Linked DNA regions of Homo sapiens: region 2 is linked to region 1. The links come from fine-mapping of genetic effects on gene expression. A gene starts in region 1. The other region holds a variant in brackets. All regions are shown on one strand. Distances are between the middles of the regions. Region 1 holds the start of COL27A1 (collagen type XXVII alpha 1 chain). Region 2 overlaps KIF12 (kinesin family member 12).

Evidence for each region. PIP is the estimated chance that this variant, and not a neighbour inherited with it, causes the effect.
Region 2: its variant is the best candidate, but not a certain one, in a credible set for the expression of COL27A1 in aorta (GTEx, PIP 0.63).

What each region holds. Positions count from the first base shown.
Region 1 is chr9:114,152,523-114,157,883 of GRCh38, reverse strand. COL27A1 (collagen type XXVII alpha 1 chain) reads right to left here and starts at 2,347. Exons shown (of 61, transcript NM_032888.4): 1 at 1,872-2,347. The coding sequence starts at 1,933. LOC105376225 (a long non-coding RNA gene) reads left to right here and starts at 3,616. Exons shown (of 5, transcript XR_930256.3): 1 at 3,616-4,789; 2 at 4,887-5,044; 3 at 5,197-5,291. RefSeq lists silencers at 1,181-1,475, 2,363-2,482 and an enhancer at 4,019-4,540.
Region 2 is chr9:114,089,551-114,094,911 of GRCh38, reverse strand. KIF12 (kinesin family member 12) reads left to right here. Exons shown (of 19, transcript NM_001388308.1): 12 at 457-559; 13 at 641-731; 14 at 940-1,026; 15 at 1,415-1,505; 16 at 1,579-1,683; 17 at 2,270-2,370; 18 at 2,461-2,579; 19 at 2,912-3,274. The coding sequence ends at 3,051. Among named protein-coding and RNA genes, the nearest start is that of KIF12, 7.1 kb to the left of the region's middle. The variant T/C (reference allele first, on the strand shown) is at 3,009.

The sequences.
Region 1 (5,361 bases):
TGTTCATCTTCACAAAACCCAGCCAGCTAGGAATAAGGTGCCGGTTTTGTGGAAGAGAAAAACAAGCAGCAGAGTGGCTCACCCAAGCTGGCACAGCAGAGTTAGGATTCAAACTCGAGCCTGCCTGATGGCAAGCCTCATGGCCCTCCTGTGGTGCCGCCTGCCTCCCACCAACATGATTCTGTGAGTGTCTCACTGCTGTCCCCTACCACCAGTGGATATGTTACTCTGCGTAGCCAAGCCAGGCATGTGGGTATCAAGAGGGTCCCTGGACAGAGATGGAGGAGAGAAAATGCCAACAAAGAACAGGGGAGTGTGCTCAGAAAGGGACAGAGACCACCAGGAGGCTGCTGGCTGCTGAGGGTCCGCAGCGCTGGTGGAGGCACAGGAGAGGGAGAATGTTCTGAGTACAGGGAGGAAACAGAAGGAGGCAGAGGCCAGGGATGTGTCCATAGACATGACATGGAGTTTGGTCCGGCCAGAAGGGTCCAGGAGCAGAGGCATGCTGGAGAGCAGAGGCATGCTGGAGAGCAGAGGTATGCTGGCGCCAGAGCGCACATGATGCAGGACAACGTGATGTCAAGGGAGGCAGGGAGGCAGGAGAAGGCAGAGACTGGGCCTCCGAGCAGTGTTGACTGCCCACTTGCCCACAGCTGGAGCCCCACCATGGGGTGCTCGCCTGGCACCACTTTTCTGCCCAACTGCTGGCATCTACCCTGGCGCAGGGTCTTCTGGAGAAAATGAGTCAGCAGTGTGCTCACTGGTGCCGCGCGCGCGTATGTGTGTGTGTGTGTGTGTGTGTGTGTGTTGTGGTGAGGGGGTGCGGGGCGGGGGAATCGCAAACAGCCAGCTTTTTCCAAGACATGGGGAAGAAAGGAGGGGGTGTCATCCCGCGGACTCCAGCTCAAAGGGGGCAGGGCCCAGCTACAGCCCTAACAGCCTCTGGGGAGTGTCCTGGTGTCCTGGGGGCAGGATGGAAAGAGAGGAGCGCCGTCCACAGGCCCCAACGGGCTGCTTGCATGCTGCTGGCTCCCACACACACCCACACGCTGCGCCGGCTCCAGCACAGGCTCACTCTCTCTTACAACTCCTACTCCACACGCTGGGAATCCCAGCCTCTGGGCCCCAGCTCCGCGCAGCCGCTCCTGGGAGAGTCCCTGCCCCTCTCCGGCCCTGTCTCCCGATCTGTACACTGAGGGGTTCCGCACAGTGATCGCCCAGGGCCCTTTCTGCTCTGACATGCTGGCTCTCACTTTTTCTCTCTTACACACGTGAAAGGGACAGGAACCGAGAAGCAGGAAACACAGACACACAGACCCAGGCCGACTAACACAAACACGCGGAGATTTCCAGAAACGCGGGGACGTGCAGAGCCACACAGACACGGAGACAGGAGCAGAACCCGAGACCTGGTGACCTAGAAACTTGCGGACAATTTCACAAGAACAGATAGAAACGGAGACGTACAGGCTTGGGACCTGCAGACACTGAGACACCGGAACACACCGAGACGGCCCCAAACGGAGACCCCCCTCCTCCCCCAAGCATCCAAAAAGCCCCCCTCCGCACCCCGCCGGCCGCTCCAGGCGCCACCACCCACCCCCACCCCCGACCCCCGGGCTGGCTCTGCCCCCGCCCCAACGGGATCGGGCAGCCGGGCCAGGCGCGGCAGGGCGGGCAGCGTTCGCCAACTCTCGCCCGGCCGGGGGCGCAGCCCCTATTAACCCTTGGCGTCCCGCCTCGCGGGGGCGCAGGAAGGGGCAGGAAGCTGACGTTCCGCTGGAAGCGACCGCATGGCGGGGAACCCCGGCCCTCCCCGAGATTGGAGCAGCAGGAAGCTAGGGAGGGGGCGTCCCCGAGTTCGTACTCACCCCCCGCGCGCCGCCGCCGCCGCCGCTGTGCCTCGGGCCCCCCGCGCCGATCCCGCTCCCATGGCAGGCCCCTACTTCATGCTCCCGAGCCCGGGGGGCAAGTGTGGGCGCGCCCCATGGGGCCGCCAGCCCCCCGCCCCGCCGCGCCAGGCCGGCTTAGAGCGCGCGGCCCCCGCGCCCCCAGCGCAGCCCCGCGCCCAGGGGCGCCCGAGCAGGCAGGCAGCGCGGCTGGGGCCCCGCGGGCGCCCGCGCCAGGCCCATGGTCCCAGGAGTCCGGGCGCCGCGCTCGCCCCTGCCTCGGTCCTTTTCTGCTTCCACCAAAAAGGAAGAAGAAGCAAGAAAAAGAGAGAGAGAGATGATCAAACTTTTGGAGGCGGGCTGCTGGCGGTCCCCGGAGGCAGAGCAAGGCCGGGTGAGGGCGCGCGGAGGGCGGTGGAAGCTGCCTCCCCGCCGGCCTGGGGGAGGAGAGGAAAAGGAAGGATTTGGGGGAAATGAAGGCGATTTAAAGTCTCGGCCCGCGGTGGCTCTCCACCTTCCCTCCTCCCCGCTCCCGGCCGCCCTCTGCTGCCCCCTGCTGCCCCCTGCCGGCCGGAGCCAAGGGTACAGCCTCAGCTGGCCCACTACAGCCCCGATGGGACACCCGCCCCCCTCCTCCTTGTATAGATGGGGAAACAGATTCACAGAGAGGAAGGGGCTGCCCAGGGCTTCACGGTGATTTGATCACCGTTCTGAGATTAGGAACTTCTGACTGGTGAGGCTGGGGGTCCTCCAATGGGGGGTTGGGGTAGGGGAGAAGGGCCAAATTCTACTCCTGGAAGAAACCCACAGTTTCAGGGACGGAGCTAGGACCAGAACTTGGTGTCCAGACGCCCACGACAACCAGTATCGTGATCCCCACCGCCCACCAAAAGTTTGCGCTCCCAGACTCGGAGCGCCCTGGAGAACATATAGGGTGGGCTTGTTAAGGGTTTGCCACCCTCTCTCTCCCTTCTGTCAGCAATTGGAATCTAACCGCACCCCACCACCACCACTAACCACGCACCTCCCCAGAATCGACAAAAACTCCCTCGGATCCCATCCGGGAGCTAAGAGCTGCACACCTTGGCCCCCGGGCAAATTCTCACACCCAAAACTCCAGTCCAGCCCTGGGACCACAGCTCCCTCCGCCTCTACCACCTCTTGCCACTCGTTCACGAGCAAAGTTACACTTATTCACCGGTGCACACACACACTCCCACACGTATCCACCCTTTCCCCAAACTCAGACACACGCTCACACACGGTCCCATTCTGGGACAGCCACGCACCCTTCCTAGGTTCACACGAAACGCATCCTCAGATATCTGGGCTCAGGCGCACGCTGATACTCTACACTCGCAGAAGCATGCACACGGATGCTTACACAGGCACAAATGCACGCTATCCTGGCCATATCGCCCCCACACATGTACACACCCCGGGTGGACACACGCGCGCACACCCTCACTTGCACACAGTTCTCCGAGAGTGCCCACCGCACATGTGCACACACGCATTCACTCCTCACGCGTGTACCCACCTCCCCATACGCGCACACCTTTAGGCGCGCGCACACACAGGCATATAACACTTCGCACCGCTCCAGGAGCCCCCAAGCACTTACTGGGTCCCTACGTGCGAGGCTGGCCGGTCGGTCCTTCCTCCGGCGCCTAACGGCATTTGTATTCATGGGTCCCCGCAGCCGTGGGCGCGGGGGCGGGGGGCGAGGTCCCCTTCCCTAAACGGGGCGCGGGCGCGCGGAGCGCAGCGGCACCGGGAGGGGCATGGGCGCGCGGGACTGCGCCGCCGACCCGGTCCGCCTGCGCTCGAACTTCGGCAGCTCTGCGTCCACGGGCTCCGGCGCGGGCTCCGAGAGCTGGGGGCGGCTCATAGGTGCTGGGGCGGCGGCGCCCGCCGGGCCTTTTGAAGTCTCCGCTGGGGGCGGGGAGGGGGCGCTGAAGGCGGCCTTTTAAACCCTGGCTGCACGCGGGCTCGGTCGAGCAAGGTGTCTGGTTTCAACAAACTTTAGGAAAAGTCCCAAGCCGAGAGAGGGGAGGTAGGGGGGTTGGGGGAGCTGCATAGCTGTGCGCTGCTTCCTGCAGAGGGCAGAGCACCCATGGCTGCCAGGAGGGAGGCCAGTCGCGGGACTGGGGAACTGGCAGGCTGCTGGCCGGCGCGTGGAACCACCCCCGCCACCCCCGCACCCCCAATGTTGAACCAGAGTTCTTAACTTCCATGTGCACGAACCCCAGGGAGTGCAGGAACACCCCCAAACTGTGCACAAATTGAGCATGTTTGTGCATTCTTCAGGGGAGAGGGGCCGTGGGCTTTCCTCCGGTTTTCAGAAGTCCACGGCCCCCTAAGGTTGAGAACTCCCTCTTCAATCATAACTGATGTTTTTTTAGTTGCATACTTGGTACCATGCAGACCCTGTCTTTATTTACATTTTAGATATTTTGTTCATTGTGGGGTTTTGCATTAATTTTGATACTTTTAAAAATATTTTAAAAGTAAAAAATTAAAATATTATTTTGATTACTTAGGGGTTTGGGGCACTGCTTTGGGCAATTTACCTCCGTTGCTGAGTTTTCTTGGCATCTCCTGGTATGCTGCATCTCTGCATGTGCCACACCCTAGTCCAGACCCTGACCCACACAGTGCTGGGGTTTAAGGGAGGCCTGCTTTTTTCTCTCCATTTACAGATGGGAAAGCTGACATAAACGGGTAGGTGGTAGAGGTGGGATTTGAACCCAGGTAACCTAACTCCAAACTTCTGCATCTTGTCATAAGGATCCAAATCTTAGGCTTTAAGGGGTTCTGTGCAGATCCTCAGCAGCCTCCCCAGCTTCAGATCCGGCCTCCTGAGCTCCAGTCTCTCTGATACCTGCACCCAGGCTCAGGTAAGCTTGACTACTTCGATGCTTTCTCCATACTGTTTCCTCCCAGGTTCTCCCTCTGCCCCTTTTCTGCCTGTTCACAACCTGGTTATTCTTCTAGGTGCAGGCCAGAGCTCACCTGACTCTGGTGAGCTGCTCTGCCCTACACCGGGATTGCAGCACACATCACATGGCGCTGTCATTGTCAGATCCATCTCTGTGTCCCCACACCCAGCCTGACACATGGAGCCTGGGATACAATAGATGCTCAAACCGTTGGTAATTTAAATAAGTTATTTGTTTTAACTCCTACAGTATGCAAACCCCTGTACAAGACTCTGGGGGAAAAGGGTCTGCCACTGTGGGGGCAGGGACAAAAATTTCCATATGGTCCTGCCTTCTGGTCATGCACGCATTTGTAATGTGGACAGGAGACACGCACAGCAACTTGGGGTAGGGAAGAGAGTCTGGATGGGAGACATCAGACATCACTATGTCATGGAGAACCCCCTGCAACTGCATAAAGGTAAGATAATATAAGGAGAATGTGATAAATGCCACCAAAGAGATGCAGATCAATTGAATTGTGAAGCTGA
Region 2 (5,361 bases), 63 kb after region 1:
ATTAGGGTTGGAATCCTGGAATCGGTATCATGGTTGTATAGGATGGGGTCAGGGTCCCAGCCAGGGTCATGCCAGGTTTAGGGCAGGTCTAGGGTTGGAGTTTGAGTTGGGATATGATTCAGGGTCTAGCTCAGTTAGTATCATGGTTAAGTGGGAGTTGATGTGGGGCCTAATGTGGGGTCTCGTTTGGAACCATTATCTGGCCCAAGGTTTGGACAGAACTGAGTTTGGGATTGGACTCACAGCTGAGTCCAGCTCAGAGTGGGGCCCTCCAGGACAGTGCACTTAGGACAAGGTGCCCCTTCCAGGCAGATACAGCCTTGTGCCAAGATGCAAGGCTGACGAATGAAGCATGGGCTGGATTTTAGGCCCCAGTTACTTCCCACACCCGGAAGTTCTTGTGCAGTGCACGACTTATACAACCATAAAGGTGGCTCTGGGCCTCTTTCCCTACAGTCTCCTGTGGCAAAGCAGCCCCAGCGTTTGGAGACAGAGATGCTGCAGCTCCAGGAGGAGAACCGTCGCCTGCAGTTCCAGCTGGACCAAATGGACTGCAAGGGTATGGGCTTCCTGGAGGCAGAGTAGGATGGGGATAGGGTCTGGGGCTCCTGTGGATCCACCACCTCCTGCTTCCCTGCAGCCTCAGGGCTCAGTGGAGCCCGGGTGGCCTGGGCCCAGCGGAACCTGTACGGGATGCTACAGGAGTTCATGCTAGAGAATGAGAGGCTCAGGTAGGGCACAGCCCACAGCCAGAGGGATGCTGCTCCCCACCCATCACTGCTAGGCTGCTTCTGGCAAACTGCCTCCTCTCCCTGCCCCTGGCTCCCTTATGTCCCCACCTGCTTCCTGAACTGGTGCTATGCTGCAATGAGGAGGAGCTGACTGATGCCCCACCCCAGCCCCATTTCCTACCCCTTCCTGGCTTGTGATCTCCCCTAGGAAAGAAAAGAGCCAGCTGCAGAATAGCCGAGACCTGGCCCAGAATGAGCAGCGCATCCTGGCCCAGCAGGTCCATGCACTAGAGAGGTAAGCAGAGCCACCAGCTTGGAGCCAGGCCTCTGGACAGAGGGCAGCTGGGAAAAGGGATGGCTTAATGAACTGCTTGAGGCTGGCCTCTGGATTCAGACCAACTAGGTTCAGTTTCCAGCTCTGCCACCTACTAGCTGTGTCACCTGGGGCAAGTCATTTAACTTCTCACTGCCTGGGTTTCCTCTTCTGTAAGATGGGGTTCATCGTCGTGCCTACTTATAGGCTTGTTTTAAAAATCAGAGAGAATAAGTTAACATGTAAAACTTTGAGAATGGGGCCCGGTACCTGGTACGGGATCCAGGAGTATTAGCTGGGAAGGGGATTTGAAAGCCAGCTTGGTGGTAGGGTTGGAGGCTGCAGGCATAGACCCTGCTGTTCTTTCTAGGCGTCTCCTCTCTGCCTGCTACCATCACCAGCAGGGTCCTGGCCTGACCCCACCGTGTCCCTGCTTGATGGCCCCAGCTCCCCCTTGCCATGTGAGTCTCACGGCCCAGCCTGGAGGGGTGACAAGTAGGGATGTCATGGAGCCTCTGACGCACCTTTTTGCAGGCACTGCCACCCCTCTACTCCTGCCCCTGCTGCCACATCTGCCCACTGTGTCGAGTGCCCCTGGCCCACTGGGCCTGCCTGCCAGGGGAGCACCACCTGCCCCAGGTAGGAAAGGCCATGGTGGGAGTGAGGGAAGGCTGGGAGAACTGGAGACCTTGATCCAGGAGTCATCAATCCAGAGCCCCAGGGATTCCAGGGCTGCAGGCTAGATCATGGGGAGTGAATGGCTGGCCTAGGGCTCCCTCTGCCCTGGTTTGAAATAGCTGTTTGCCTCACCCTCCCCCCTCCTCACCCTGCCCTGTCAGGGCCAGGAATTCATTCTGTCATTCACTTATTCATTCACTCACATATCTACTCACTTATGGATTTACTGAATCATACATTCACTTACTCCTTCAGTAACTCCCCAAGCTCCTTGCTTTATACCAGCCTCTCTTCTGGGCTCTGAGGAGTCAGAAATAGACCAGACGTGGTTCCTGCTCTCAGGAGGCTTCTAGTCTCAGGAGAGGACGGTAGAAGAACCATCTGCTGCACACAGAAGGCGACCAAGACCCCACCCCTTTATGCCATCCTGACATTCTTGGTACCTTGTGGGGTAGGCATGGTGGGGTGTCATGGCTAGCACCAGGTAGGTGGGACACAGAGAGGCAGGACTGAGGTCACCCAGAGTGGACTCTGGTCTTTCCTACAGGTGTTGGACCCTGAGGCCTCAGGTGGCAGGCCCCCATCTGCCCGGCCCCCACCCTGGGCACCCCCATGCAGCCCTGGCTCTGCCAAGTGCCCAAGAGAGAGGTGGGTCTCTCCTGGGGCACTGAGGTCAGAGAGGGGTGGTCTGGGGAACTCAAAGGCTCACCTCCCATCTCCCAACTCACCCTGGCCCAGGAGTCACAGTGACTGGACTCAGACCCGAGTCCTGGCAGAGATGTTGACGGAGGAGGAGGTGGTACCTTCTGCACCTCCCCTGCCTGTGAGGCCCCCGAAGACATCACCAGGGCTCAGAGGTGAAGAAGGGAGAGAGGGAGGGGCCCCTAATGTTCTCTGTGATCTTGGGGTAGAACCCACCCTCTCCAGGCCTCAGTCTTATCTCTGAAATGGGGTGGGTGTTGAGAGGTGGCTTCTAAGATCTTTCTACTTCCCAAACTTGGAATTCTCTTTTTAGGAGCATCTGCGTGCCCAGATGTATGTTGGAGCCCATGGTGTATGGGGGTGGGGTGGGGGGAAGGGTGGAGGGTACCTACCCCCTGAGGCTTCTCCAGAGGGTGTTGGGACCCAGATGGACCTGGGTGAGGAAGGGCCCTGGAGAGGGCAGGCCTCGAGTCTCACTGCTCCTTAGGTGGGGCCGGGGTTCCAAACCTGGCCCAGAGACTGGAGGCCCTCAGAGACCAGATTGGCAGCTCCCTGCGACGTGGCCGCAGCCAGCCACCCTGCAG[T/C]GAGGGCGCACGGAGCCCAGGCCAAGTCCTCCCTCCCCATTGAAGGCCAAGTGGGAACCCAGGAGACTGCTGTGTGACCTCAGACTGGGCTCCACACTCTTGGGCTTCAGTCTGCCCATCTGCTGAATGGAGACAGCAGCTGCTACTCCACCTGCAGCTGGGCTAGGGGCGGGGACTGGGGGTGCTATTTAGGGGAACAAGGGGATTCAGGAGAAACCAGGCAGCAGGGGATGAAATACATGAATAAAGAGAGGCATCAGCTCCAAGTCTGGTTGGTTCTATCCTCTGGGGTTATCAGTTATTTCCCCGTGGGAAATTAGAGGGAGGAAGGGCTAGGACTCTTGGCACAGATGTGTGTCCCCTTCCAGTCTGGAATATCCCAAGCTTCCATCTCCCATCTCCTTTCATGGTTTTTTGTTTTGTTTTGTTTTGTTTTTTTGAGACGGAGTCTAGCTTTGTCACCAGGCTGGAGTGCAGTGATGCAATCTCAGCTCACTGCAACCTCCGCCTCCTGGGTTCAAGCGATTCTCCTGCCTCAGCCGCCCAAGTAGCTGGGATTACAGGCACACGCCACCACGCCCAGCTAATTTTTGTATTTTTTTTTTTTTTTTTAGTAGAGATGGGGTTTCACTATGTTACCCAGGATGGTCTCGATCTCCTGACCTTGTGATCCACCTGCCTCGGCCTCCCAAAGTGCTGGGATTCTAGGCGTGAGCCAGCCTCCTTTCACATATTATACAAGTTTTGATTAAGCAACTGCTATATGCCATTGGGTAGGCGGTGGGGGAGTTGAATGGCAAGCATCTCCATGAAGGAGGCATGAGGGAAACTGATTTGGCCTGGAGCACAGGGAGATGGGTGGTCAAGGGGCTCACTCTGTGTCACTATGGGTCCTGGCGCTGGTGGGGATCAGGAGGCCTGGCTTCTTGTGCCACAGATCTACGCTAGGACTCTGGGCAAGTCCTGTTCCCTCTCTGGACCACTCTGGTTTTCAGTCAATTAAGTGGGGGACACAGTTTCCTTCCCACTGAGTTCTAGTGAGGGTCAAGGCTGTGAGCAATATCTGATTCATGGCATAAGTGCCCAGTAAAATGCTGTATTAGTCTGTTCTCAGCACTGCTGTAAAGAACTACCTGAGACTGGGGCATTTATGAAGAAAAGTGGTTTGACTCACAGCCCTGCAGTCTGTATAGGAAGCATGACTGGGAGGCCTCAGGAAACTTACAATCATGGCAGAAGGGCGAAGGGGAAGCAAGCACATCTTACCATGGCGGAGCAGGAGAGAGAGAGAATGAAGGGGGAAGTGCTACACACTTTCAAACAACCAGATCTCGTGAAAACTCACTACCATAAGAACAGTAAGGGGGAAATCTTCCCCCATGATCCAATCACCTCCCACCAGGTCCCTCCCCCAATATTAGAGATTATAATTCAACATGAGATTTGGGTGGGGACACAGAGCCAAACCATATCAGATACAGTGGGTCTGTGGTTATGGAGAAGTCCAGTATGACATGAGGAATTACGGGAAGCAGAGAGAGGACCCATTATAGAAAGAGCTATGAGGCTAACCTAACTCTTCACTTATAGTTAGGGAAACAGACCCACATCATTTATTCATTTGTTCATTCATTCATTCAACAAACAACACTGATGGCTGGGTGCCTGTAATCCCAACACTTTGGGAGGCCAAGGTAGGAGGATTGCTTGAGCCCAGGAGTTCAGGACCAGGCTGGGAAACAGTAAGATCCTGTCTCTACAAAAAATAAAAAATTAGCTGGGCATGGCGGCACACACCTATAGTCCCAGCTACTCAGGGGGCTGAGGCAGATCACTTGAAAACAAGTGGCTGAGGCTGCAGTGAGCCATGATCACACCACTGCACTCCAGCCTTGAAAAACAACAAAGCAAAAACACTGGCATCAACTGCAAATCAAGCTAAAAGGTGACAATGGAGACAAGGGCCAAGGTGGCTTTTCCAGGGAGCTCAGAGTCTGGTGGGGGACAGACAGGCATTTACAACCTCACAGGGGCTGGGGGAAGCCCAAGGGACTGTGGAGGCACAAAGGAAGGTCACTTGATCAGTGATCATTGAGGGGGTCAGAGAAGGTTTCCCAAGGAGGCCATGACTAAGGCTTGTAGGAAGGTAGACAGCATTGGGTTCAAGGGAAGGTGGAGGGGCTGTGGACACAAAGGCTACAGACCCCTGAGGTTCCAGAGCTTGTCGGGGCCAGGAAGTGCAGGGCCTTCCAGGTCACAGCCAGAGTTTGGGCTTGTGCCAAGGGCAGAGGGGAGCCATGGAAGGGTCTTAAGGCATCACCAGCCTAGATTCGTATTTAGGTCACGCTGGCCA